Regions from separate parts of the Homo sapiens genome. Here all the other regions are linked to region 2. Evidence: fine-mapped expression QTL. A gene starts in region 2. Each other region holds a variant in brackets. All regions are shown on one strand. Distances are between the middles of the regions. Region 1 overlaps ZNF365 (zinc finger protein 365). Region 2 holds the start of ZNF365 (zinc finger protein 365). Region 3 has its middle 40 kb from the start of ZNF365.

Region 1 (10,571 bases), 30 kb after region 2:
AACATATTTCTTCAAATGTTGCTCTACTGGGGGGCTCTTTTGCGTGTTTGAGATTTTTGAGATCTGCTGACATAGACTTCTCAGAAATCTTAGAACAAGTGCCCACAGAGGCTCCTGGAGTAAGCAAGCAAAGGCTGAGCATGAGATGTTCTTGTTCACTGATGCAATGGATGGTGCTGCAGGTCGTGCTACCAGTAGCAGTCACTGACTCCCTTAATGGGAATGCAGTTTTTAGAAAGTATAAGAAATATTTTAAAAACCAAATCCAGTCCTCAAATGCAGTTAACATTTTTTCTTATTTGTTTTCCTTCAGCTTACAGACATCTCCTCAAATAGGAAGCCCAAATGCCTGTATGTATGTATTTTTATACTTGGGCCATTTGATAATGTTTGTATTGTATGTTTTCCTGTTGCATTTTATATGAGATCGTATCTATTTTATATGATATCTATATTATAAATGGCTTTGGGAGGCTTAAGTGAAAACTGACCTGCATGTGTATCTAACTTTGTGAAAAGTTGATGTGACCTTTCAATATCCTACTAGTCTATTAGTATATACCACTATGATGGCACTGGAGGAATATTTTTAGAGTATTATATAGTATAACTTTCTCTTATTGAGGTATAGTGTGGTCATAATAACTCTATAGTACTATTAATGTAGTTCATGTACTACATTGTTTATGTAAATTCATCCTGGCAGTCATATGCTTTACAACATCTATGCAGTGAATTTGTCTGAGTCTGCTAGTCGTCACTTAACAAGTCAAGAGACATGAGTTCTGGTCCCATCTTCTCCATAGACCAACTGTCTGTATTATTCGGGGTAGTCATTAACATTTTCTATACCTCAGTCTTATCACTGTAAATAGAACTAGTAATATCTCCCTGGGAATTTAGTACCATGTGATCTTTTCATGGCGACCACAGGAATTTTTGGAAGAAAAATACTCATATTATGATTTGCCTTTGTGGTAGCATTATCACCACTGTAGCATGTAGGAGAGATTGTGCCATGAGTAATTATTCTTTTAAGGTTTTAAAGAAATCTTTCTTTCTGCTCATCTCTTCTCCACTCCCCCCTCCAACCCTCTGTAGAAGCCGAGGGCACCCGCATTCGGTATGTAACCACCCTGATCTCAAGGCCCATTTCCACCCAAAGGGAAGGAACCACCTGAAAAAGGCCAAGGATGACAGAGCCAGCATGCAGCCTGCCAAGGCCATTCACGAACAGGCTGAGTCCTCAAGAGACCTCTGCAGACCTCCAAAGAAAGGGGAGCTCCTGGGGTTTGGCCGCAAAGGCAACATCAGGCCCAAAATGGCTAAAAAAAAGCCAACAGCCATTGTGAACATCATCTAAAAGGGTGGGTGGTGCTGGACCAATCATCGCTGGGCTTTGGGGAACGTTGTTCCAGGAGCCAACAGTAATGTCTTTCTGGAAACATTCCATAGTAAGACACATTGGAAAAGCCAAGGGCATAACACAGGCAAGCACCTCAATTAACCAGAGCTTAGCAAATGGGAATCTTAGTGAACCAGAATTTTATTATAACCCCCTTTTAGAAGCTTGCAAATTACAGAAAGAATAAAAAAATTAAATCAATCTTAAAGCTCTAACTTCTAAAGTAACTGGCCCAGTCTCCAGTAATCTTGGCATCTGGGCTTCTATGCAGTGGTCACTAATTTTCAGGACCAAGGCCACACAAAATGTCAGGCCTAGGGAGAAAATTCATCTGTGCCCACTGCTCTCCAAAGTGCGAGGCAAGGAATGGCAGTGTAAAGTTCTGTTAATAGCAGTAAAATGAAAATATTTGTGTTTGTGTATAACCTTCCCCTCAGCTAATTTGAAAGCCTCCAAAATAAGGATTCCCATTCCCCGAGTATTCTGGTTAATCAAGATTTCAATTTCTGGGTTGCTCAAGGGACTCGTTCAGTCAGACTTCAGTTCTCATTCCGACAGGGTGTCTTTCAGTTCGTTTGTTTGATTGAGGTTTTTTGGTGGCCTAGATGCATGTTTATTCAGATTTTGGTACACCTCTGCCGTCTTCTTTGGCTGAGTATTCTGCACCCACAGACCATGCTGCCAGCCTCTATCTTAATAGCTGCTTCTGTGGATATGGCTGGGGAGCGAAGTAAAATCCTCTTTTGATTAGCACCCAGCATGGGCTGGGTGGCTAGGTGGTTGGAATGACAGTGGACTGCACGCTTGGTGCATCGTGCATCGTGACCATCCTGGAAGCACTGCGGGTGTCGCCAAGCCCTTTCCTAAGACCTGCTTCCCGGCCAGTGTCAGTGGCCCTCTCTCTCTCTGCTATGGGCATGACTTTCTCTTCGCTGGCTTAACTTTTCCACTGGGTGGTTCACTTTGCCTCCTGCTGCTTCTGTGCCCTGTTAAGGGCTTCAGGTATCTTTCAACCAAGTATCTGGAGTGTTCACTCTATGTTGCATTCTAAAGTAATTTCTGAAATAAACAATGCATGTAGGAGCCAGAATCTGACACTGTCTTCCCCTCCTTCCCTCCCTAAAATGGCTTTAGTTTCCACAAAGAGCTGTTAAGAATTTCCTGCTGTATGATTTTCCTCAAGAATGAATTTCCATGTTATTTTTTCCTTAAATTTAGCAATATCATCAGGTCTCTTGCAGAGTTTACAAGTGCTGACATTCTTCTGAAAACAGGAATAATTTTGTCCACAAATATATACATATATACATATATATAACACATACAAAATATATATGTTAAGTATATTAATAATTTATTTTTAAATACTCATGGAGAAAGTGTGTGTTTGTGGTGGGTGGTTTTTAAACTATATATGTTTGTTCATGTAAACTGAATTCTCTTATTTAAAAAATCAAAACTGTAACGTAATTAACATTGGCAGAATTATGATTGTTACTGCAATAAGCATCAAATTAGCAGCGCATTAAAAATAGGAAATAAAGCAGTTGCTTAAAATGCCAGTCAATTGAAAAGTGTAACTTATCATTATACAAACATTCTGAACCTACCATAATGAAAATGTTCTTGAATCTTCACTTTGACTTTCAGTTTATGGGGGGGGTAGATCATTCATGTGATATATAAGCAGCTATCAAGTGGGCAAAAACATTGCTGTGAATAGCACTGTTTAGGCTAACATTGTAAAAATTGTAATGTTATAATTATTATTTATTTGGAGAATTAACTTCCCCCTCTAAAGTTATTTATTATTGATGCTTATACCATGATTGCACCTTAGCCTTTTACATACTAAAAACATGACTTGTTAGTTGTATTGCATGCTCTTTGTCCTGTAATGTGTGTGCAATGACAACTTGTTTCTGTTTTATTTAAAGTAACTGACATTTTGGATTTTCATCTAACATAGAGGGCATGGCAACTCTCTTTGACAGTGGTACCCCATGATCTTCAGAAAGTACCATAATGTCATCCTACTCTACATTTCACAAGACGAATTATTTTGAGATTTGTTTATTATATTAAAATGTTTTTTTACGTTCCCACTAAATTTTGACCCCATATAAAGAAATGTGTTATGTATGTTGTGCCTCCTTAGAGACATAAATTTAGTGTCAAAACATGGGAGATGGCTTACTCAGAAGCATACTCCACTTAACATACCATGGCCTGAGCTAAGTACCATGTCCTGTTTGTGTCTTATTTTTAAATATTTTCTTTGTCCACATGGGCCGTTGACCTTAGAGTTAAGGCGGTTGCTTTTTTGAAGAAATCACCAAAGTTTCTGGGAAACTATGTTCAAGGTTGAAATGGAGAGTAGATTTAATTTTATTTGTCTTGTAGGGAAGAAATCTTCCTTTGAACCGCTTTTCTTGCTTTTTCCCTTTTTCCCAAACTAGGTTACAGGTTCTTATCTGCAAGGTTCAAGTTGCTTAGACATTGTTTTCCAGTATTCTGCAGGGCCAGTCAGTTGTACAGAAGTTGGAATATTCTGTTCCAGAATTAAAGAAGTTTTTAGATTATGAAATATTATGATAATAAAGCTATATTTCTGACTAATGTGTTGATATGTTTTGTCTAGTTGGAGTGTTTTTTGGGGAGCCAAGTATGTTGATCCACTAACAGGAAACAAAATGGTCCTTCCTGAATAAGCTGTTCATCATACATATAATCACCAGGATCTTGTGTACCTATAGGTTTTCTTAACTTAGCTAGATCATTTTTGTTCATCATAATTCCTATATCTAAAAGTTATTTTTACATATGTTCACACTGAGACAGCTTCATTAAAAGCCCCATTTGGCACTTTTCCCCATCTTCCTCCACAACCATGAGTAATTTTCCTACACTGTATTTTTAAACTTGTCATCTCTTAGCAATTCATAAACAGATTTCACAGTATATATCCCAGCCTGTATATGCTATACATCCAAGACATTGCAAAGCCCAGAGAGTGATCAGAATAGATAACAGAGAGAAGTATGTGTCTGGTGGAATTAGCCATTGTTCTTTTAAGAACCATGAAATCAGGAAAATTTAGGGAACTCCATTTGTTTAGGAGCTGTGAGAGTTATTCAGGAGGTGACCTTAGTCTGCACTTACAGTTGACCCTTGAACAGTGCAAGGGTTAGGGACATCGACTCCTGCGTAATTCAAAATACATGAGTAACTTTTGACTGCTCAAAAACTTAACTACTGATAGCCTACTGTTGACCAGAAGCCCTACTGATAACATAGTTAACACATATTTTGTATGTTAAATGTATTATCTACCGTATTCTTACAATCAAACTAGAGAAAAGGACATGTTAGTAAGAAAATCATAAGGAAGAGAAGATACAGTTATATTCATTAAGTGGAAGTGGATCATCATAGAGGACTTCATCGTCATTGTCTTCACGTTGGGTGGGCTGAGGAGGAAGAGGAGGAGGAAGGGTTTGTCTTGCTACCTTTGGTGGCAGAAAAAATCAGGATGGAACTGGACCCGCCGGGTGCGGTGGCTCACGCCTGTAATCCCAGCACTTTGGGAGGCCGAGGCGGGCGGATCACGAGGTCAGGAGATCGAGACCATCCTGGCTAACATGGTGAAACCCCGTCTCTACTAAAAATACAAAAAATTAGCCGGGCGCAGTGGCGGGCGCCTGTAGTCCCAGCTACTCAGGAGGCTGAGGCAGGAGAATGGCGTGAACCCGGGAAGCGGAGCTTGCAGTGAGCTGAGATCGCGCCACTGCACTCCAGCCTGGGTGACAGAGTGAGACTCCATCTCAAAAAAAACAAAAACAACAGCAACAACAAAAAAAGAACTGGACCCACTCAGTTCAAACCTGTATCATTCAAGAGTCAACTGTAGTTATGTCAAGGTTAATGGGTTCCCCAGGTTATAGTGTTTTTGAGAAATAGCTGTGACATTCCTGATTATCTCAGTTTATTAGAAAACATAAATCCCAATATCTTGATTCTGCTCAATCTGGATCCTTCAGAAGTGAATTCCAGGGGTGGCATGCCTGCATGATCCCAAAAAGAAGCCCCGGAGCAATTTCAAATGTTTAAATGATGAAGAGCTTTAGAAATTGAATTCCTTTTTGTGGAATTAAGTAAATTTTTTCTTTTGTGTTCCTTTTTTTTGTTCATGTTCTGGGTCAGAACACAACTGAAATTTTCATTTAAGAAAAGAGTATTCGAACTATAGCCCTATGTTAAATTTACTCTGGATCTTCAGCTATTATTCCAGGATGGAAGAGTTTTTCCAGTAGAGGAACCTCACATATAGGCAGGCTAGATTCTCCTTCCCACCCTGTAATGGGGACACTGATACATTTTGCATATGTGGAGGTAGATGCCTAGGATGGTAAATGAGAACTTTGGTACCAATGTCCTGTGAGAAGAGGAGAGATTATTGCTGCCCTTAAGTATCTGAGGTGTTATCACATAGAAAAATACATATTTTGTGTGGCTGCAAAAGATATTACTGAGATCTGTGAGAGAAAGTTCTGAGGAAGCAGATGTCAAATTACTAAATGTAAAATTTCTAAGCACAACGGAATAGGTCACCTAGTTAAAAAGCGAGCTCCCTGTCTCTGAGCTACTATTTCCTTTGAGTACTACTTTTCTCTTAGCTACTCCTTTTCTCAGCCATTGTTCTTTTTAGAACCATGAAATCAGGAAAATTTAGGGGACTCCATTTGCTTAGGGGCTGTGAGAGTTATTTGAGAGGTGACCTTAGTCTGCCCTTATAGTTGACCCTTGAACATTGCAAGGGTTAGGGACACCGACTCCTGCGTAATTCAAAATCCATGAGTAACTTTTGATTGGGATTCTACATTGGGTTGGGAATTGGGCTGGGTTCTTCCAAAAATACTTGTAGTCTTGGGATTCTATTGTTTTATATATGTATTGATGTTACATTAATGTAAATGTTGGCCACATAAAACTTAGTGTCAACATGGTAACTTGATTTTGGAGATTTTATTTCACTGACTTGGGCTTTGCAAAGTTTGTAAATTTTGTAAAGTTACAAAGATAACACGCACCCATATTTATCCTTACAGAATCCTTTTGAAGCAAGTAGGGCTGAGGAGGTACAATTTTCTACTCTCAGCAGGTGGAGAAACAGCAGTTGGGGAAACAGGAGATGTACATCTTGTACTATTACCTCAGGATGATGTGCTTCTTGGAACGGAAGCATCTCACCTCCCTGAATGTGATTTCAGTGTTTAAAGAGAAGGTACATTTTTTGTTACAACATGGCTCCTGAATGCAAGCCAGGAACCTCATCTGGTGTTCAGTTAAATCAACAGCAGTTCTTTCCAGCACTGGAAGATAAATTGGCAATGTTGGACTTAGAGATGGTGTGTGTCATGTCAGGCTCCAGCATCGTGCCTTCTTCAGGCATTTTCCAGGTAGTTTTGATTATTCTTCAGCTTTTGCCTTTCTTATGAATATACTTAAGAAGGTGACATCATCACATTTTGCAATGAGAGGGGGGCTTATGATGGCTTGAAAGGGTTTCCAGGGCCCAGGAACGCCTCTGTGACAGAGCTTGAGTGAGAAAAAGGAATTGTCCTTCTACATCTCAGCCAATGCTCCTTCACCGTGTTCTGCCTCCTCATTGACAAAACTCCAAAAAATGATCCT[A/G]TATGCATTTGTTGATTACATAAAAGTTCTCAGTGTCCTAAAATTCTGTTTAACATTTATGATTGGTTATTGCACCTATGCAAGCCACTATGGGAGTTATAGACGTTGCCACTCTGTAAGCTCAAGACCTCTGCCACCCTTTAGAGATGAGGACCCCAACTTGCCAAGGAATTTCGAAGTCTCAGATTGAAGTCTGTTAGATTTTAGTGCATATGTTTGTGGACATTTCACATTGGTTGTTTGCTGACTAACAAGTGGCATTGTTCACTTTGGTTGAGTATATCATACAGAAACAGAAAGATGGTTTTATATCTCAACCTCTCCTCTTTCCAAGCCCTAATTATTTGTTCAAGGGTGAACCCCACTTCCCCATTCTCAGGAATGTACTTTATTTTTATCTTTAAGTGTGCCTGTAGCTTGAAATTATAGCTAACACTTCTCATATAGTCCTAAACACAGAGATCTGGTAGAGGGAACCAAGATTCTTAAAGGGTAAGGGATACCCGAGGAGCTTAGAGTGGGTAAGGGCAAGAGGAGTGGACACACAGTTAGTTATTGGGACGAAGATCAAAGCATTGAATTTGCCCCGCATGCCCTGGCTCTGGCCTGTCTCTCCACTCCAGCCAGCACCAGACCTCTTGCTCCTTTCCAGCCACTGCCTTCCTTTCAGAGAGAGCAGAGCTCTCTCCATGCACTGCTTCCCTGACATGTGTCTTCTGCCTGGAATGGACTTCTCTTTCTTTTTCATCTAGTTAATTTCTGTTCAGCCTTCAGATTTGAGATCAATTGTCACTTCCAAGGCAGCTTCATAACTCTCAGAATACCATGTACCTATTCCTTGTAGGACTGATTCTAGGTGCCCCTTTATAATATTTAATGGTGTGATGACTTGACTCATATCTGCCTTCCCCACTGTTCTGTCATTTCCATAAAAAGGGGCCAAGTCTGTACCTTTTATCCCTAGTATGTCCCCAGTGCCAGATGCAGTACCCAGCATAGGGTGGGTCCTCAATAAGGTATTTGTGGAGTATGGGAACATCAGTGGCCTCAGATATGCTAAAAAAGAAAACTACAATGAGAAAATGGACTTTCTTCCAGCTGGGGAGGATCAAAGAGGAAGTAGTGTTTGCAGAATGAACAGGATTGGAGTTAGCAAAACAGCAGAGCATTTTAGGCAGTCTGAGTGTGGTCATGGAGGTAGAAAGCATAGGACAAGTGAACCCTGGGAAGTAACATAATTTTTCCTTGAATATCCATTTCTTGGCCAGTCTGTCTCCCATTTTAAGCGTAAGCCCCTCAGGTCTGCAGCTATCCTGTAGTGTTGTATCCCATTGTGAGAGAACTGTATCTACCCTGATGCTCCAGCACCTAGCACTGGGCCTGCCGCTGTGTAGAGATTCAGGAGATCCAGTGAGACAGCATCATTCCTGGAACCTGGGCAGGGGCTCACCTTGCCAGAGGGTCAAGTATCTCCAGCTCCAGGAAGAGAAAAACTACAACAGTATGGAACCAGGCAGAGCACTGGAGCACTCTGCTTCTGCTTCTAAGGGTCCTTCCAGCAAGGGCTGGAGCCCACAAACTGGCTGTCACTCCTCTTATTGAAGCCATTCCTACAAACTTTATAAAATTAATCAGAGAAGCATGGAGGGGAGAAACAAAAATAAACCAAGCTGGCAGCACTGTCAGTGTTTGTTATGAGGTCAGCTTGCCCTCTGACCTGCTTCCCCATAGTGGTTTGTGGCCTATTGCCCCAGAATCATGCAGACCCTGCTGTAAGACTATAGCTCCCCTGAACTGCTGTATAGATAAAAACTCAAACACTACAAAACATTAAGCTTTTCCTTTGAGATATTCCTTCAGGTCCTGTGTACCAGTGAAACTACTGACACCTGCTTGCCTGAAGGACCCCACAAGAAGCTGACTCACTAAAGAATGCGGTTCCCACATTCCCTTTACCCTTCTTAGGAAAACTTTTGACTTTTGACCCTCACTGTCCCTGATCCCCTTAAAAACACCAGCCCAGGAAAAATCAGGGAGATGGATTTGAGGGTCTCCTCTCCTCTCCTCTCCTCTCCTCTCCTCACTCGGTGCCCTGTGATTGTTAAAGTCTTTCTCTGCTGCAAACCCTGCTGTCTCAGTGTATTGAACTATTACTGTGTAGAAGGCATATGAACCTGTTGGTCCTAAAGCCTTATCAGTAGGTATTTTAATACTCTCCTTCTTTTAGCCTGCATCTATGGTAAGATAGAAAATACATGGTATTTCCTTCTGAATCCATGGTAGACATTGCTAATTGGCCAGGGTTATCTTTCCTGATGAACACAGACATAGCCTCAGAATCCTTCTTAACACAGCCTTAACCAGCTGTGGTAGGCAGAATGTCTACCTACCCAAACTTTTAACTTTGGAAGAATCCTTTAGATAATAACTATGTGTTGTTTAAGCCACTAAACTAGTGATAATTTGTTACAGCAGCCATAGAAAATGAGTATACCAGCTAGTCAGCATACAAATCACAATCTATTTGCCCTTCCTCAACAATGGTGCAGTTGAAAGGGCACTGATCTTGGCATCCTGCTTTACAACTTACATCTGCTTTGACTGTGGGTCCAGTTTCCTCATCTGGAAAATAGATAGAATGATGTCTTGCCTTGGCCATGTGGAAAGCACATGGGAACAACCATGAAGTCTTCTCTCTCCCCTAATAACTTTCTAATCAAGAACTTGAAAATAGAAAAACAAGATTCTTCCCTGTGTACTAAAACAAAGGGCAACGTTTAATGAACTCAAAGCAGAAAATCATTAAGTTACATTAAACAGTCTGAATGGTGGTAAAGAACTGACTATAACCTGTTTGAAGATATTAACCTATCTAATAGAAACAGATAGGTATTAACATATCTAAAGAAAGACATCAGGCTCTGCCACTTACTAGTTTTATTATCTTGAGCAACTTATTTAATCGATTAGAGCCTCATTGTCTCTCTTTGTATTCAGGATCATGGTGCAGATTCAATAAGATATCCATATAAGGTTTTTAGCATAATACCTGGCACAGAGTCAGTACTTAATATATTTGTTTATTTGAGACTATTGGCTAAACACGGAGACTTAGAAAAGAGAGTGTCAGAAAACAAATACTAACAGCATCTGTTGGGGGATATATGGGCCAGTAAATAAGATTCCCCTCCCAAGTTATGAATTAACCAATACTTATTAACACACAAGCCCAATGCCTAGAGACCAAAATATCAGAGCTACTGGCAAGACTAGATCGTAGAACAGCCTTTGGACTCATATCTTGATGCGTTGGTTTTGTACCTTCATGCAATTGCTTTGCTTTGCTTCTTAGCGTCCTATGTTTTTATTCCCCAGCAGGGTCAAGATAGCGTCTCTGATCTTCTTTTCTTGGTCTTACTTTCTCTACTCCAGCTGTAGTTGACATCTGCTCTTCTTTTTGGCTGTTCGGAAT
Region 2 (10,571 bases):
TGTGGAGCAAGTTTATCATATCCTCCTTGGGAAGTGGTGTAGCTCTGGATTTTCATAATTACCTGACACTCTGTGTGAGAAATCATTTGCCTGATTCCAAAGGACTGTGTCTGATCTTTAGGCCACTTATTAGCTCTGCAACCCAGGGGGTTCCTTCTGCACACAGATGTTTGCTGCAGACATGGAAAAAGTAGCAGGAATCTGCTCTGGGTTCCCCTTGCAGGCCCTTTATCTGGGGCAATTATTCAAATCTTAGAGGGTCTGTGTTCAGTCCCCATAAGGCTGCTTTTCAGCAAATGTAATCAACATATTTAATAAATGGATCAAAAAAATTTAAACAGCCTCTCTGGTTCAAACCTTTCAAACCTGTATTTGAAAGGCAGCCGTTCTGGCCACAAGGGGTGAATGTTATTTGATAAATGGAGAGGAAAGGGAGCTAAAAAATCTCCATTCAATTCCTAGGTCTTTCAGCAGAGATTCTCTAACTATCCCAGCCTGAAGGGCTCTTTGCTGTCTCAAGGAAATCTATATTCTATATTAATCATTTGACCTTCCTCCCCTTCTTCTTCACTTCCTTTCTGCCTCTTTCTCTGTCTCTTTTCCTACCTATTCTTCCATTCTGCCCACCTCTTTTCCTCTCCACCACCCTTCCTTTCACAGTCATGATGGAAAAAGCCCAGGCTTTTGGAGTCAGAATTAGCTTCAAATTCTTACTACCTCTCATGCTTTTTAGTGGCATGACCTTCAGCTGTATTCATCGCATCTCCAGCAGCATCCTCTCTTGTGCATAAACGGCTGCCAATGTCTGCCTCGTTGGTTACTGTAACAAAGGACTGTTTCTCAAACTTCAGTGGTCATGAGAGTCACCTGGGGAGATAGGTGAAAATGCAGATCTTCAAGATCCACACCTACAGATTTCAATTTATTAGGTCAAGGTTCCAGACATCTGCATTTTGACCAGCTCCACAGGCTCCACAGGTCCCACTTTGAGAAACACTGGATATGTGCCTAAACATTTAATATAGTAAGATCCATTGTAATTACTCTAAAGGTGAGAGCTATGATCATTAACAATTCAGCAAACATTTATTGAACATCTACTATGTGCCAGGCATGATGTCAGGCCCTATAGACACTTCCCATTTAATTCATTTTAACATATATTTAACTTCTCTATATATATATATGTCCCATATATATATATCTCATATATATGTCCCATATATATATATCTCATATATATGTCCCATATATATATATCTCATATATATGTCCCATATATATATATATCTCATATATATGTCCCATATATATATATCTCATATATATGTCCCATATATATATATCTCATATATATGTCCCATATATATATATCTCATATATATGTCCCATATATATATATCTCATATATATGTCCCATATATATATATCTCATATATATGTCCCATATATATATATCTCATATATATGTCCCATATATATATATCTCATATATATGTCCCATATATATATATCTCATATATATGTCCCATATATATATATCTCATATATATGTCCCATATATATATATATCTCATATATATGTCCCATATATATATCTCATATATATGTCCCATATATATCATATATATCCCATATATATCCCATATAGTATATATATCATATATATCATACATATATGATATATATGATATATATGATATATATCATATATATCATATATATCATACGTATCATATATATCATATATATCATACGTATCATATATATATCATATATATCATACGTATCATATATATATCATATATATGATACGTATCATATATATATCATATATATGATACGTATCATATATACATCATATACATCATATATATCATATATACATCATATATATCATATATACATCATATATATCATATATATCATATACATCATATATATCTCATATATACCATATATATCTCATATATACCATATATATGCTCATATACCATATATACCATATATACCATATATATCATATATATACCATATATATGCATATATATACCATATATATCATATATATCATATATATACCATATATATCATATATATCATATACACCATATATATCATATATACCATATACATCATATATATCATATATACCATATACATCATATACATCACATATACCATATACATCATATACATCACATATACCATATACATCATATACATCACATGATATATATATCATATATATCACATATGTGATATATATCATGTGATATATATCATATATATCACATATGTGATATATATCATGTGATATATATCATATATATCACATATGATATATATCATATGTGATATATATCATATATATCATATATATCACATATATATCATATATATCATATATATCACATATATTATATATCATCTATATGATATATCACATATATATCATATATATCATATATATCATATATATCATATATATATCATATATATGATATATCACATATATATCATATATATCATATATATCATATATATATCATATATCATATACATGATATATATATGATATATATATCATATATATATCATATATATCACGTATATGATATATATATCATATATATCATGTATATGATATATATATCATATATCTCATATATATATCATATATATGATATATATCTCATATCTATCATATATATGATATATATCTCATATATCTATCATATATATGATATATATCTCATATATCTATCATATATATATGCCTTGTTCTCATTCCACTAGTTGTAAGTGCCTGGAGGGCAGAGTAAAACAGCATAATGTGGCATAGAAAAACATCAGTGTTTGAAGACATGAACTCTAACCCTGATTTTATTCTTTATTACCTATATGACTTTAGGCAAGTCACTTTACTTCCTAGAACTTTATTTTCTTCATCAAAAACTGGAAAGCCAATGAGTACAGTGGTTAAAAGCCCAGGGTTTGCCATCCTGGCTGTAATGTGTTCTAGGTTTGTGATCTTGAGAAAGTTACTTAACTTCTTTGGGCCTGTTTCCTCCTATGTAGAAAGGGGATTTATTTCTTCAGCATTCATTCTTTTAACAAATATTTTTTGAGCACTTTGATCAGCACTGTGCTAAGTCCTGGGAATATACTGGAGAGTAAGACAGACAAGGACCCTGACTCACATAGCTTACAACTTAACAGTGGACATAAATATTAAACAGACAACTACATCCATAACCCAGCACATAGAATTATTGTGACAAATCCTGTCATAATAAATTTTCCTAGTACGCACTAACCTTGTCCAGGAGTGTCAGGGAAGACCTCCTCAGAGAGGGCATACTTGGGATGAGCTCTGAGGGATGAGTAGGCATTACCAGATAAAGAGGCCCTAGAGACGGGAAAAAGCAGGGCTCTTAAGTAAAGGGATGCCAAGGTGGCTAGAACTGAGTGTACAAGGTCCTCCCTACCTCACAGGTGTTCAAAGATTAAATGAGGTAATTGGTGGTATACACAAGTGACACTTTGAGAACCACTTAAGGTCCTAAATGCCTGTTGACCAAGTTGAATTTCCCACAATACTCAGCTTTAGGCCCTGCACAGAATAACCTCTCCATAATTATTTGATAATATTTTATATTTTTAGGGTGAGAAAAGGACTTTGAAAATCTCCATCCTCTCATTTAACAGGGGAGGAACTTAGGACCAAAAAAGAAGTAGCAGCTGTCTAAGAAATGGGAGGAGCTGGCTGGGCGCGGTAGCTCACGCCTGTGATCCCAGCACTTTGGGAGGCCGAGGCCGGTAGATCACCTGAGGTCAGGAGTTCAAGACCAGCCTGGCCAACACGGCAAAACCCCGTCTCTACTGAAAATACAAAAATTGGCCGGGTGGTGGCAGGGACCTGTAATCCCAGCTACTAGGGAGGCTGAGGCAGGAGAATCGCTTGAACCCAAGAGGCAGAGGTTGCAGTGAGCTGATATCGCGCCACTACAGCCTGGGAGACAGAGTGAGACTCCGTCTCAAAAAAAAAAAAAAAAAAAAAAAAGGGGCGGGGGGGAAGGGAGGACCAGAGCATGCTTTTGTTATGTTTTGCCATGAAGGCAGTGGGTGTAAGAGGTTAACCTGCAGGCACCTCACAAGATGACGGAGATAACTTGGCACTCCAATGAGTGTATCTTTCAGACTTTAAGATTTTGTACTAAATAAATTGATTCTTGGAATAGTCTTGAGAGCGAGTCAAAAAGTAACTTCAATGAGATATAATATTTTCAAAGCAAACACACCCCAGCACAATAGCCTATCTCCATTTACGTAGAAGTTAGTACATATTAATTCCTCTTCTCCTTCCTGCTTTTTAAATGTGTGTAGGCCCCTTTTTTATGGAATTAATAATAATTATAAATGAAGTAGCAACAACGATAACAGCTGACTTTATCAGTGTGTGTCCCTGTCAGGCAGGGTTTTTACCTCCATCATCATAGCACATTCGATCCACCGCTATATTAAGAGGTAGGTCTTGATTATCTTCATTTCATAGATGAGGAATTGAAGGAACAGAAAAGTCTAGTTACTTGACCCAGGCCCTAGAACCAGGATTTGAATCAAGTCTGATGCCAGAGCTTGGGATCTTCATTGCATTTGATGTGATAATTCATTTGTGAAAAAACAAAGCAATTCATTTGTTTTCATTTGTCAAAAACAAAACAAAATTTCAACTAAGATAACTGTTGAGCTCTTTACCGTTAAAATAAAATCGGGTGTTGAAATGAGTAACAGCAAGCCTTGAGAAAAGACACCCTGAGAAGTCAAGAGGATGCATTAACTGTCTACAGATGAACAGAATCTCTTCTCTTCTTTGAACAAGAAAACCCAGCAGTAACTTTTATCTAGGTTTCACATTTCAGGAGTTACAGTAGGGGTAAACCAAAACAGGTTAAAAAAAAAAAAAAAAAAAAAAAAAAGCAAAAGCCCAGCAAGCTGAGACATCAGAGTCCTTCAGAAGGAATGATTTGCCGTCTTCTCTTCAGGACATCCCCTCTTTAGGAGGACAAATTTTTTCTCCAGGGAAAGGGGCGTCCGCCTCAGAAATGGGGGTGTAGGTGAGGGATCTTGTTGCTTTAACTGTTTGTTCATTAATCCCTGCACTTTACTAGATTTAGTTCTGCCTGTTAACGTAGCCTCAGGACACTTGGCTAGGAAGGCTGGAGTGTACTCTCTGGGTTAGTTATTTTGGGACATTCTCGCCCTGCTGCTTGGGATGAAGAGGTCCTAATTAAATACCCGGACCTTCCAACGGGTAGATTTTCAAAGAAGATGCCCAGCTATGCTGCATCCTCATCCACACTCTCCCGCTCCCCCCAAACTAGTGCAAAAAAGCTTGCCAGGGCCTGCAGAAAGCGCCGCGACTGCGAGGCTGACACGCGTCTTTCCTTCCCTCCCCCGGGGAATGATCCCAGCATCTCTCGCAGTGATGTCAGTGTAATCCTGAGTCGGATCGGGCTCCCGGCTGGGTGGCGGGGGGGCAGATGATGCTCCCGCCAGCTGGGCAGAGCAAGGGTGTTCCCCGCGGAGGTGGCAGCCCTGGGCCGCGGCGTTCCGGAACCCCCGCACCCACGGCGCGGTGCCCCACGGTGCCCGCGAGCGCCGCCCCCGCTGGCTAGCCGCGCCTCGCTCCGCCCTGGACGCCGCCGGTCCCGGCGCGGAGGTGCGGCGGGGAGTGGGAGCCGGCCCGGCTCAGTCTGATTTACGGCTCTGCTGAAAACCGCTTCGCTCCCGCAGCATCAGCACCGGAGGCGGCGGCTGCAGCAGCAGCAGCAACAAGTCGGGTAAGAGGCGGCCGCCGGCCATCTGCGCCCGCGGCTCGGCGGAGGGGACCTGCCGGGGTGGCCGGGGCTGGGGAGGGGGTCCCCGAGCCCGCAGCATGGCGGGGAGTTGGGAGAGCCGGCTTCCCGGCCCCCACCAGCAGGAACTCATGTGCACACGAATCCACTCTGGCACCCGTGGGCTGGCACGCAGCGGAGAGGGGGCGGGGAGAGCTGGGACCCCGGGGCAGGGTCATTGCCAGCCTGCCCTTCTCTGGCAGAGTCACTTAGGGCTCTTCATCAGCCCAGTGGACTGGGTTTCCTCTGGGCCCATAAAAGCCTGCGTGCTCTGGAGTGTGTGATTACCCATTTCCCCATCCAAAATGCCACCCTTTTCCCATTGCCCCCTTAGAATCCTGACTTCCCCTTTCCTTACCTCTTGTCAGCGTCTTTGGCCCTATGCTGAGCCAGGGTTTGCATCTCGTTCCCAGAAAACCAGTGGTTAAACATCCCGGTGTACCCATCACAGGAAGAGGTTCCCCTCTCTGGGGGCCGGGGGCTTCACCTAGAAGCCTTGCCTGCCTCGCTGCCTGGGGACCATTTGCACCTCTGCTTTTGAAGAGGTTGAGGACACTTTTCACCCAAAGACCCCAGCTGGGCTCCCTCATTTCGGGTCCAATGCTTGTTACATTTAAGTAGAAACCTTTCATGGAGGAATAGAAGATATGCACTGCTTGCAGAATTGGGTTGCCAACAGTCATCTGTTGCTAGGGTGAAGATAATGCATTCCTACAAGGAAACCAGAACTTCCTGTTATTAAGAGAGTATGCTGATACCTACCTGGTTCACACACTGACCATCCCTAGAGGTTGTCATATAAAATAGCATCTGAGACAAGACAAATCCGTCCAGAACACTCTATTATAATAAAAATCTTGGCCATGGCCCCACTTATGCCAAATGGTATTTGACACATTGGGTCCCCAGGTTTCAGTGAAACTCACGTATGGGGTCTGTTATTGTTACGATTAGCACTTTGGTTTATGTCATCACAGCAATACCTGAAGGAAAAAAAGGCAAAAATTTCAGGGTGAAAAATTTTCAGCTGATTGCAGGCTTAATGCCACTGTGCATAGCTTGAGTAATCTTTCCTGTACTTGAGGATAGGTCCTGAGCTTGCTGTCTTAGGACCCATTTTGACAATTCATGTGAGTTTTCATATGTTCTTGTGTTCACGCATCTCGGATTGTATCCTTAAAATGGGGCACGGTTTTGCATTTAGTGTGCCAAATTCAGGAGGGGAGGAAACTTGAATTCCACTTCTGGATCTACCACTTTCCATCTGACCTTGGATTAATGGCTTTACTTCCTTGCTTCAGTGTTCTCTTCTGTGGAGAGGGAATGTTACCCACCTTTTTGATTCTAGGTAGGAGTTGGCAAACTTTTTCTGTAAAGGTAGTAAATATTTTAGCTTTTAGGAGCATAGAGTCTCTGTCTCAGTTACTCACCACTGCCATTGTGGTTTACAATAAATAATACAGAAATTGATACGGCAGCAGTAAATAATGCAGAAATTGATGTGGATGGATTTGGCCCATGGGCTGTAGGTTTTAAGTGCAACATAAAATATTATGTGCAAAAGTCACTTGAAACCAAAAAGCCTCTGCTGTCATGGAGATGAGCAGCAATCATTTTAGTAGTGTGTTTTTCAGCCGACTTGTAAACTACCTATTTCCCCCCTCCCAGGACTTTTAGAGTAATGCAACAGAAGGCTTTTGAGGAAAGCAGATATCCCTGGCAGGAGTCCTTTGAGAATGTTGCTGTGTGCCTGCCATTACGCTGCCCGAGGTGTGGAGACCATACCAGATTTAGAAGCTTGTCATCCTTGAGGGCCCATCTGGAGTTCAGTCACAGCTACGAAGAAAGAACCCTCTTGACAAAATGCAGTCTCTTTCCATCCCTCAAAGACACAGACCTAGTCACTTCCTCAGAACTCCTGAAACCGGGAAAATTGCAGAGCAGTGGCAACGTGGTAAAGCAGAAACCGAGCTATGTTAACTTGTACAGCATTTCACATGAACATTCCAAGGACAGGAAGCCATTTGAGGTGGTGGCAGAGAGGCCTGTGTCCTATGTGCAGACCTACACTGCCATGGACCTCCATGCAGACTCGCTGGATGGGACACGGTCGGGTCCTGGACTGCCCACCTCAGACACCAAAGCTTCTTTCGAGGCACATGTCAGAGAAAAATTCAATCGAATGGTTGAGGCTGTGGATAGGACCATTGAGAAGAGAATTGATAAACTCACCAAAGAGTTGGCCCAGAAAACTGCGGAACTGTTGGAAGTTCGGGCAGCTTTTGTGCAGCTGACTCAGAAAAAGCAGGAAGTTCAGAGACGAGAGCGGGCCTTAAACAGACAGGTGGACGTGGCCGTGGAAATGATAGCTGTACTGAGGCAACGCCTGACGGAATCTGAGGAGGAGCTTCTTAGGAAAGAAGAGTAAGTGTTGCTGACAGGGGATGCTAACCCCATTGCTTTAAGCAGCACCCCAATCGCCTTACAAGCAAATGCTAAGCAAGGTTGATTTTTGCTATTTGCAGGTGCCTTGACTGCATTTCTTATTGATATAGTTGAACCAGGAGGAACAAGGCTTTGATATCATTTACCCTCTGTGTGCACGGTCTGCAACCTAGCAGCATTAAAGTCAAATATCTAATTCCTTCTCAACTGGGAATTTGTAAACCACAGACTATGCTTTTAGAGAGAAGACTAGCACAGCCTAGCCATGGTGGGATCCATTCCTAGCACCAAATGGCGTGCAAGGGTGAGTTGAATGGGAAGGCAGAAAGGGTGAGCTAAGTGAGCTGTTCATTCTTGACAGTCTCCGTATTATAAAGTCAATGCAAGATGCTGTCTTAAGTTCAAAAACATTCCTCCAGTATAAATAAGTTTGGTTTATTTGCCATTTTGTATTATCTGCCCAGGTTAATTAAATGTTAGTAGCTGAGAATCCATTTAATTTAATTTATATTTGGGAGAAGCAGACATTAGGGCACCCAGAGGAAAGACTTTCTGATATTGCTATACTTCTATGATTTAAGTTTGAGACTTGACTTTTTGGCAAATGATGTATTTTTTTTTGTTATATTTAAGTTTTGCCCACTTGCAAAGAGTTGAGATTGGTTTTCACAAGTTATAGATCATAGAAGCTATTGCTTGAGAAATCATCATACTTAGAGAAGCATTTCTTTATCAGTAAGTATAGATTTAACCCAAACTAGAAAAGTGTACATTACAAGTCAGTGTATTTCCCAAATGCAGAATGTCAGATTTCATTTTAAATAGAGGTTTAGAAATTCATGGAATCAAAGGACATTAAAATTGATGGAGTAAAACATCCTAAAAGGTAGGTTTCCAAATAATTTGAGTTCTATTATAGAGATTGATTTAATTTCATCTTTTCTTTGCCCTCTGGCACTCTTCTATTTTGTGTTGTCTCTTAAAATGTAATAATTAGAACTTCCTGAGACACTCCATAGATTAAAGAGATCATTACTTGCTATCACTTAAATGCTTACGTTCTACCTTGAGGGGAAGCCTAGACATTTTTTGTTCAGGCGAGACATTTTTTAAATTACGTAGTTAGGATGGATTTGAATCAGCCTCTGACTTACTTTGCTCCTAGGGAAATAATCTCTAATGAAAAATGTTTCCCTTTTGGTTTCTGGTGTTTCCTGGTGGGAAGTTAGTGTCTAGACCCGTTAATGGCCACCAGAGTGACCCGCACTGTGCTGTTGAAAAAAGGGCAGATGTGGTTACTCTATGCGTAAAGAAAGGCCTAGAATTAAATTTGAACATTTTTGCTTCATTCAAGAGCAGTGAGTTTAAAAGGCAACAAAATTAATTTTTTGAACTTATTTATTTGTTGTATTTTACTAATTAATTACACGAGTAATAATGAACATGAGATCTGGGGTAGTAGTTGCCTGGAGTGATGGGTTCAAGAATGCTTAATTGTTAAAAATATCTGTCTAAATAAAAGTGGGCTATGCATGGGTCAGTTACATGTTATGGTTAATCCAAGGCTGCCACCTGAGCACCAACTGAAAAACTAAGACATGTTAAAACAGGAAAAACTTGAATAGGAGAGAATTATATGTGTAAAAGTAGCCTCTCCAATCCAAGCACATCCTATCCTGTCCTTCAGAGACAGCCACTGTTAAGTTCCGTAAATGTCCTTCCAGACCTTTCCTGTGTGCCTGCAATCGTACACACACAGATTCCATTTTTCTAAATGAAATTGTGACACATACTGTTCTGCCAATTGCACGCTGAATTGTTTTTGTTTTTAATATAATAGATTTCAGGCATCTTTTGTTTACTAAGTACAGAACTATACTACTCTTTTTGACTGTTGTGTAGTATTCCATGGTATGGATGCATCATGATGCATTTAACCAGTTTGTTATTGATGAATATATAGTTTTATTCCATTTTCCTAGTATTAGAAATAGTGCCTTGGTTATTATCCTTGTACATGTTTGTTCACATTTTTGTGAGTATGCCTGAGGATAAATTACGAGTTGATTTTTTTTTTTTTTTTGAGACAGAGTCTCACTTTGTCACCCAGGCTGGAGTGCAATGGCATGACGTCAGCTCACTGCAACCTCTGCCTCCTGGGTTCAAGCAATTCTCCTGCCTCAGCCTCCCAAGTAGCTGGGGTTACAGGCGCCCACCACTGCACCC
Region 3 (8,028 bases), 40 kb after region 2:
TTGAGTTCTGATTTGGAGCAGGGCTAAGGGATAGCTACTGTTGACCAGGAGATTACAATGAAAAGACTTTGAGGAATTCCTGCAGTATGTAGAATGTATAGAGGAATCTCTCTCTCTCTCTTTTTTTGTCCTTCAGCTTTTAAGTTCTAGGGTACATGTGCAGGATTTGTTACACAGGTAAACATGTGCCATGGTGGTTTGCTGCACAGATCAACCCATCACCTTGGTATTATGCCCAGCATCCATTAGCTATTCTTCCTGATGCTCTCCCTCCCTCCCCATAGGCACCTGTGTGTGTAGTTCCCCACCCTATGTCTATGTGTTCATATTGTTCAGCTCCAACTTATAAGTGAGAACATGTGGTGTTTGGTTTTCTGTTCCTGCATTAGTTTGATGAGGATAATGGCTTCCAGCTCCATCCATGTCCCTGTAAAGGACATTATCTCATTCCTTTTTATGGCTGTATAGTATTCCATGGTATATATGTACCACATTTTCTTTATCCAGTCTATCACTGATGGGCATTTGGGTTAATTCCATGTCTTTGGTATTTTCATGTCAAATGGTATTTCTGCTTCTAGATCTTTGAGAAATGATCACACTGTCTTCCACAATGGTTGAAATAATTTACACTCCCACCAACGGTGTAAAAGTGTTCCATTTTCTCTACAACCTTGCCAGCATCTGTTGTTTCTGGACATTTTAATAATTGCCATTCTGACTAGCTTGAGACAGTGTATCATTGTGGTTTTGATTTGCATTTCTCTAATGATCAGTGATGTTAAACTTTGTTTCATATGTTTGTCAGCTGCATAAATGTCTTCTTTTGAGAAGTGTCTGTTCATGCCCTTTGCCCACTTTTTAGTGGGATTGTTTGTTTTTTATTATTGTAAATTTGTTTAAGTTCCTTGTGGACTCTGGATGTTAGACCTTTGTCAGAGGGATAGATTGCAAAAATTTTCTCCCGTTTTGTAAGTTGTCTGTTCACTCTGATGATAGTTTATTTTGCTGTGCAGAAGCTCTTTAGTTATCAGATTCCACATGTCAATTTTTGCTTTTGTTGCAATTGCTTTTGGTGTTTTCATCATGAAATCTGTGCCTGTGTCTATGTCCTAAATGGTATTGCCTAGATTTTCTCCTAGGGTTTTTATAGTTTTGGGTTTTACATTTAAGTTTTTAATCTGTCTTGAGTTAATTTTTGTATAAGGTGCAAGGAATTAATCCAGTTCCAGTTTTCTGCATGTGGCTAGCCAGTTCTTCTGGCACTATTTATTAAATAGGGAATCCTTTCCTCATTGCTTGTTTTTGTCAGGTTTGTTGAAGATTCAATGGTTGCAGCTGAGTAGTCTTATTTCTGAGTTCTCTATTCTGTTCCATTGGTCTATGTGTCTGTTTTTGTACCAGTACCATGCTGTTTTCATTACTGTAGCCATGTAGTACAGTTTGAAGTTGGGTAGCATGGTGACTCCAGCTTTGTTCTTTTTGCTTAGGATTGTCTTGGCTATTTGGGCTCTTTTTAGGTTTCATATGAATTTTAAAACTAATGAGAACAAAGAGACAATGTACCAGAATCTCTGGGATGCAGCTAAAGTAGTGTTAAGAGGTAAATTTATAGCACTAAATGCCCACATCAAAAAGCTAGAAAGATCTCAGATTAACAACCTAACACCATAATTAAAAGAACTAGAGAACCTAAACCAAACAAACCCCAAAACTAGCAGAAGACAAGAAAAAGAGAAAACTTCAAGCCAGTATCCCTGATGAACATTAATGCAAAAATCCTCAATAAAATACTGGCAAACCGAATCCAGCAACACATCAAAAAGCTTATCCATCACTATCAAATTGGCTTCTTCCCTGGGATGCAAGGTTGGTTCAATATATGCAAATCAATAAATGTAATTCATTACATAGGCAGAACTAAAGACAAATAACACAAGATTATCTCAATAGATGCAGAAAAGGCCTTCAATAAAATTCAACATTGCTTCATGTTAAAAACTCTAAATAAACTAGATATTGAAGGAACATACCTCAAAATAACAAGAACCATATATAACAAACCCACAGCCAATATCATACTGAATGGGCAAAAGCTGGAAGAATTCCCCTTGAAAACCAGCACAAGGCAAGTCTGTTGTTTCTTACCATTGCTATTCAACATGGTATTGGAAGTTCTGGCCAGGGCAATCAGGCAAGAGAAAGAAATAAAGGGTATTCAAATAGGGAGAGAGGAAGTCAAATTATCTATGTTTGCAGATGACATGATCTAGAAAATCCCATCATCTCAGCCCAAAATCTTCTCAAGCTAAAAAGCAACTTCAGCAAAGTCTCAGGATACAAAATCAATGTGCAAAAATTGTTAACATTCCAATACACCAACAACAGGCAAGCAGAGAGCCAAATCATGAATAACTCCCATTCACAATTGCTACAACAAGAATAGGAATACAGCTAACAAGAGAAGTGAAGGACCTCTTCAAGGAGAACTACAAACCACTGCTAAAGGAAATCAGAGAGGACACAAACAAATGGAAAAACATTCCATGCTCATGGATAGGAAGAATCAATATCATGAAAATGGTCATACTACCAAAAGTAATTTATAGATTCAATGCTATTCCCACAAAACTGCCATTGAGCCCCATCTGATCTGAATGCTCTTCCTTAAATGAAGGCAGTTCATAGCTGATGCTGGTCTTCCCAGGGATAGCATGGACTTTGACAGAGCAAGTTGGAAAGAGAGAAGGTTGGCTAATAGGCAACTCTCCCTCCTCAAGTGGTAACAAAAACTCCTCTGAGATTACTGTATAGCAATGGTTCTAAAACCCTGATGGGTATCACAGTTACCTCTGGAATTTAGTAAAAGTAAAAATACAAAGGCATCTGATGTTTTCTATTAGCTCTCCAACTAATTCTGATATACACCAAAGTCGTAAACTACTGCTCTATGATGTGGTTGTATTTCCCAAAGTGTGTTCCATGTATCACTAGTTCCTCCGACTCATACTAGTTAAATAAAGGAATTGTCAGGCTAAACATATTTCCCTACTGCAGACGGTTCAGCATTACGACAATGAAAATGTGCATTGTGAATCTTTTAGAGGAGAAAAAAAGTATGCAAATGCTCCCTAAACTTATTTGACCATGGAACTGTTTCTTCTAAGGGAACATGCATTAACGTCTTCTGCAAACACAGCAGTTACTGTTCAGAATAATATTATAGTAAACGCTTCAAAAATACAATCACTGAGCACCCCTCTGTCTTCTTAGGAAAACTTTTGACCCTCTGTCTTAAGGCAATTCACAACTGTCTGCCAGAGTGGTCAAATTTTAGATGATTTAGGGTGTACCTAACACCTCACTTTTAAAAATGTTCTGTAGTCCAGCAGTATCCAGCATCACTTGGAAGTTTGTTAGAAATGAGGAATACCAGGTCCCACCCTAGATCTATTGAATTGGAATCTGCATCTTAATAGGATTTTTGGATGGTTCCTTTGCATTCACCACGAGAAGCAGAGGTTTTTAACCAGAAATAAGAGGAGGAGCCATCCAATATACAAATATTGGCCCTCTCTTCACCATCCTCTATCAAAACTTCTGAATCATTCTTGTAAACAACGTGAAACAGAAATATGCCTGTAGATGACACTGATATACTCACTAGATCTTCCTTTCTTTGGTTCAGTTTTTCAAAGGCTGGGCTCCTGACTGAAAGAGTCACAGGTAGCAGTCCTCATAGATTCAGGATTACCAGCAAGAAGCAAACACTTCCTAAAACTTACAGTGTTTCTCAGCCAATAAATTATATATATTAGTTTATTGGATATAATAGAGAAGAAATGCTTTGTGACTCTAATTAGTGCAAAAATTGCTTAGGATTTTAATCATTGTTTTTAGGCTTCTTAGCACAAGTGAACTGTAAATGAAGCTCAAAATTATCCTATCTAGCTCTTTTTTTTTTCTTAGACAGAATCTCTTTCTGTCACCCAGGCTGGAATGCAATGGTGCAATCAGAGCTCACTGCAGCCTCAACCTCCTGGGCTCAGAGGATCCTCCCACCTCAGCCTCCCATGTAGCTAGGACCACAGTCATACCACCATATCTGACTAATTCTTTTTTTTTTTTAATTTTGTTTTAATTTTTATAGAGACACTATGTTGCCCAGACTGGTCTCAAACTCTTAGGCTTTAGCAATCTTCCCACTTTGGCCTCCCAAAGTGCTGGCAAGTGTGAGCCACTGTGTCTGGCCATCTATCTGGAGCTTTATTCTTACAAGTTTTCAGCTCCATTTCTGAAATACTCTGCCAATTGTACTACC[T/C]GGTGGATCATCCAGGTAATGCATCTTCTTTTTTTCTGTTCATATGGCATCTCCCTAGTTTCTAACCTTCTGCTACACACCCAAATTCTCCTCCTTGTCTTGCCTTTGGCTTTCAGCCGTTTTATTATGATGTGTTTAAGTGTGATTTTATTTGTATTCATAGTGCTTGTGGTTGCTTCTTGAATCTGTGGCTATTATCGTTTCAAATATTTCTTCTGTCTCATTCTTTCCTATCCTTTTGGGATACAGGCTATATGTATGCTATGCCTTTTCACTGTGTTCCACGTTTCTGGTGCTTTTTCTATATTTTCCATTCCTATTCTTTCTGTGCTTCAGTTTGAATATTTTCTATTGACCATTCTTCTGGTTTATTAATCCTGTCTTCTGTGTCTAATCACTGTCAAACTCATAATTTCAGATGTTACATTTTTAAAATCTAAAATTTTCGTCTGATTTGTTTTTAGAGATTACGGTTCTCTGAGAAATTCCTCATTTTAAAAAGTATTTTCCTTATTTTTTTGAACATATTAATTACAGTAAAAGTCTTTGCTAATTCCAATATCTAGGTTACCCGTGGCTCTATTTCTATTGCATGTTTTTTTTCCCTCTTGGTTTTCAGTAACATAGTCCTCACTCTCAGCATGTGGAAAATTTTTTTTTTAACCAAATGCTGATCACTGCATGTAAGAATTATATAGGCTCCAGATGACTTTTTCTTTCTCCCCAGTGTGTTCGCCCTTTCCACTACTGGGCAAACAAAATTAAGACTGATTATTTAAAGTGATTAGGGTTTGAACTGAGTTGAGGCTGATGTTTAGTTTTGGTAAGACTCAGTCTACCTCTTATTTGGTCCTGTTATTACGATATTGTTTCTTAGGGTTTTCAGCTGAATGCTTGGTGTGTTCATTGGGCTCTCTCTCTCTCTCTAGAAGAATCTAATCTTGATCTCATTAGCATTATGAAACAGTAAAAACTCTTCTGATTTTCAGGTTTTGGGCTTAGCTTGCAAGTTCTAAAATTTACTCTTATTTCTCTAGTACCATAAGTACATGAAAAGCATGCTACTTTGTGTTTCATATGTTTTCTGTTTAACTTTTCAATCTCCTGCCCTCACATCTTCTGAAATTGGCAGAGGTCTTGAAGGGTTGTGTGTTTGAGGCTCCTCATCTTCAATTCTCTACAGACCCTCAAGACCACATACTTTGCTGGTATTTAGTTTTAACAGCAGTCTGGGAAAGTCTTAAATTGCCAATTTGTTAAAATTTGCAAATGCCCCTAGGAAAAAGTGACTGCCTCTTACCAACTCACCTTTCTGAGGTTCTCTCCTGTTTAGAAAATTAGCCATTCTTGTCCTCTTTGGTTCAACAGCTATCTGATGTTTTTGAGAGTTAATCTATATTTTATTCCGTGTTTATAGTTTTCTTGAAGGAGGCATTGGTCAGCCACAAATTATTCCCCTTCTACTCAGAACTGGATGTTCCTATCTTGCTTCTTGGATTGACACTTCAGTCACATAATTTCCCTGGTTTTTCATTTTGATTTCACCTTTGCATTCTATTTCTTAGATTGCCCTCACCTCTGAGCTGTGCAAATCTCTTGATTCCTCCCTCAGCACAGGTCCTTACACAGGTCAAGTGTCTTAACTTCTACCTGGTCAGATAAAATATTACCAGAAAAAAAAAAACGATGAAACTAAAACTCAGCATAAGCTGAACACAAAGAAAGCCAAATGCAAGAAATAACTTGGTAAAAGAGTGATTTGTACCCAAGTTAATGTTCTCCTAACAAAAGAAAGGGAAGTGCTTTCTCTAGGTATTCATTCTCTGAAGAATGCTTTTCATGTGAAATGTTCCCATGTTTTCCTAATACTGAATCTCAAAACCAAATGTCTGATATCTCAAATGGATAGCCTATTTTTCGAATGTCTTGATGACAGAAAATGAGAAAAAAATGGATGGATTAAAGATGTTTGAAAGGTCATGGATCCTTTGCAGCTCAAAATAGCTTTTTCTATTCATGTTGAATCTTATTGAGGCGGAGAGAGTTGAGCAGACACATAATTGTAGAACATGAAGTTACAGGTTGAGCCTCCCTTTTCAGAAATGCTTGGGACTAGAAGTGTTTTGGATTTTGGTGTTTTTTGTTTGTTTGTTTGTTTTTACATTTTGGAATATTAGCCTTATACTTACTAGTTGGGCATCCCTAATCAGAAAACTTGAAATCCAAAATACTCCAGTGAGCATTTCATTTGAGTGTCATGTTGGCACTCAAGAAGTTTTAGATTTTGGAGTATTTCAGATTTTAGTATTTTGAATTTGGGATGCTTAACCTGTATTACTATAATTTAATGTACTTCTCCAAACTAATTAAAGGGCCCTTGAAGGCATGTTTCTCAGTAATTCACTAACCCAGAGAATTTCAGATTATTTGAGGTCTGATAGAGCTATTTTGTTAGCATAAGACTTACTGGAAATAGTATTAAAATATATATTCCTTTTCAAGAGAAATAACCTCAGAAAGTATACTTACTTTGTTTACCAATGACCACTTGTGTTGTTCCTAAAAATTTCCAACATTTGTCCTCAACGACTTGAATGTACTTGAACTAAACATGTGATTCTTTCTCCTTATTTTGTGTCATTATAACGTTTGCTCCTGCATCAGCCTAATGCTGATTATTACTGTGCATCTTGTCTGAAGTGTTTGGAGTAGACTACTTCAGTACTTTGTGCCCTAGCAGTCATTTTTTAAAATACTGGTAATGATCCCAGTGGATAAAACATTTAATAGTCTTTCATAAACAGAGCCTGCTATAAAAATGAACAAAATGTCCATTCTCATCAATTTGCTAATGCCGTGTTTGGTTCAGCTACAGTTCATTCCTGCAGGCTTTACCTCTAAAGGGTTGGCATAGAAAATGAGAAGAAATGAAAATCAGCTCATCTAAATAAAACCACTGGGACACTTGCTAATATTCCTCAGATCTCTTTCTCCAACTTAAGCTAGATGTGATTCAACATCCACGGCTCAAATTTTGTTGTTTTATTTTTGCCTTAGAAATGAACAGAACTTAGAGATCTTTAATCTCCTGTCTTTTTTTTTTTAATACTTGGGGAAACTAAAACATGTTCAATAGAGTGACATTCCAGGAATCACCTAGAGAGTAGCATGGAATACAGCCTGAGTCTCTTAATTTTCTCAAGTCTCTTAATTTCTTCAAGCTCCTTGACAACAAGTAACAAATTTGCTTTTCTTAAAAAGACTGACTTTTTGTGTGAAAGGGAAAGGGATATATATGAAAAAGGAAATACACATGTATTTACAAAAGGAAGCAATGAAGTGATAAACTAAAACCTAATAAAAATAGTTAATTCTAAAGGGAGTGAGAGAACAGGAAGGAGGGGACAAGAATGGAACTAAGACTTTAAATTACCTTGTTTTATGATTTTCATTTTGGACATAATAAACAATTTAAATGTAGAAAAATTGAAAATATAGAAAAATAATGACAAAAATGCACAAACAACTAAAGGAATAAAAAATAGAATCTAATATATTTACTATCAGGAATAATTTTAAGTGGTCTATCTTATAGTATTGATATTTGAACATCAAAATGAAAGTCTCAACCCTGGTCAATATTTCTTTTTTTGACATAAAAAAGCACATACATTTTGTCAATATTTATATGGTTTGGAGTTCACAAA

The links. PIP is the estimated chance that this variant, and not a neighbour inherited with it, causes the effect.
Region 1: its variant is the best candidate, but not a certain one, in a credible set for the expression of ZNF365 in T cells (TOPMed, PIP 0.77).
Region 3: its variant is the best candidate, but not a certain one, in a credible set for the expression of ZNF365 in whole blood (INTERVAL, PIP 0.74).

The regions. Positions count from the first base shown.
Region 1 is chr10:62,398,427-62,408,997 of GRCh38, forward strand. It overlaps ZNF365 (zinc finger protein 365), which reads left to right. Exons shown (of 5, transcript NM_014951.3): 4 at 314-351; 5 at 1,102-4,024. The coding sequence ends at 1,363. Among named protein-coding and RNA genes, the nearest start is that of ZNF365, 29 kb to the left of the region's middle. The variant A/G (reference allele first, on the strand shown) is at 7,100.
Region 2 is chr10:62,368,613-62,379,183 of GRCh38, forward strand. ZNF365 (zinc finger protein 365) reads left to right here and starts at 5,757. Exons shown (of 5, transcript NM_014951.3): 1 at 5,757-5,846; 2 at 7,569-8,324. The coding sequence starts at 7,582. LOC283045 (a long non-coding RNA gene) reads right to left here and starts at 6,515. Exons shown (of 4, transcript NR_104162.1): 1 at 6,259-6,515.
Region 3 is chr10:62,410,252-62,418,279 of GRCh38, forward strand. It overlaps a transcript of ZNF365 not described here. Among named protein-coding and RNA genes, the nearest start is that of ZNF365, 40 kb to the left of the region's middle. The variant T/C (reference allele first, on the strand shown) is at 4,322.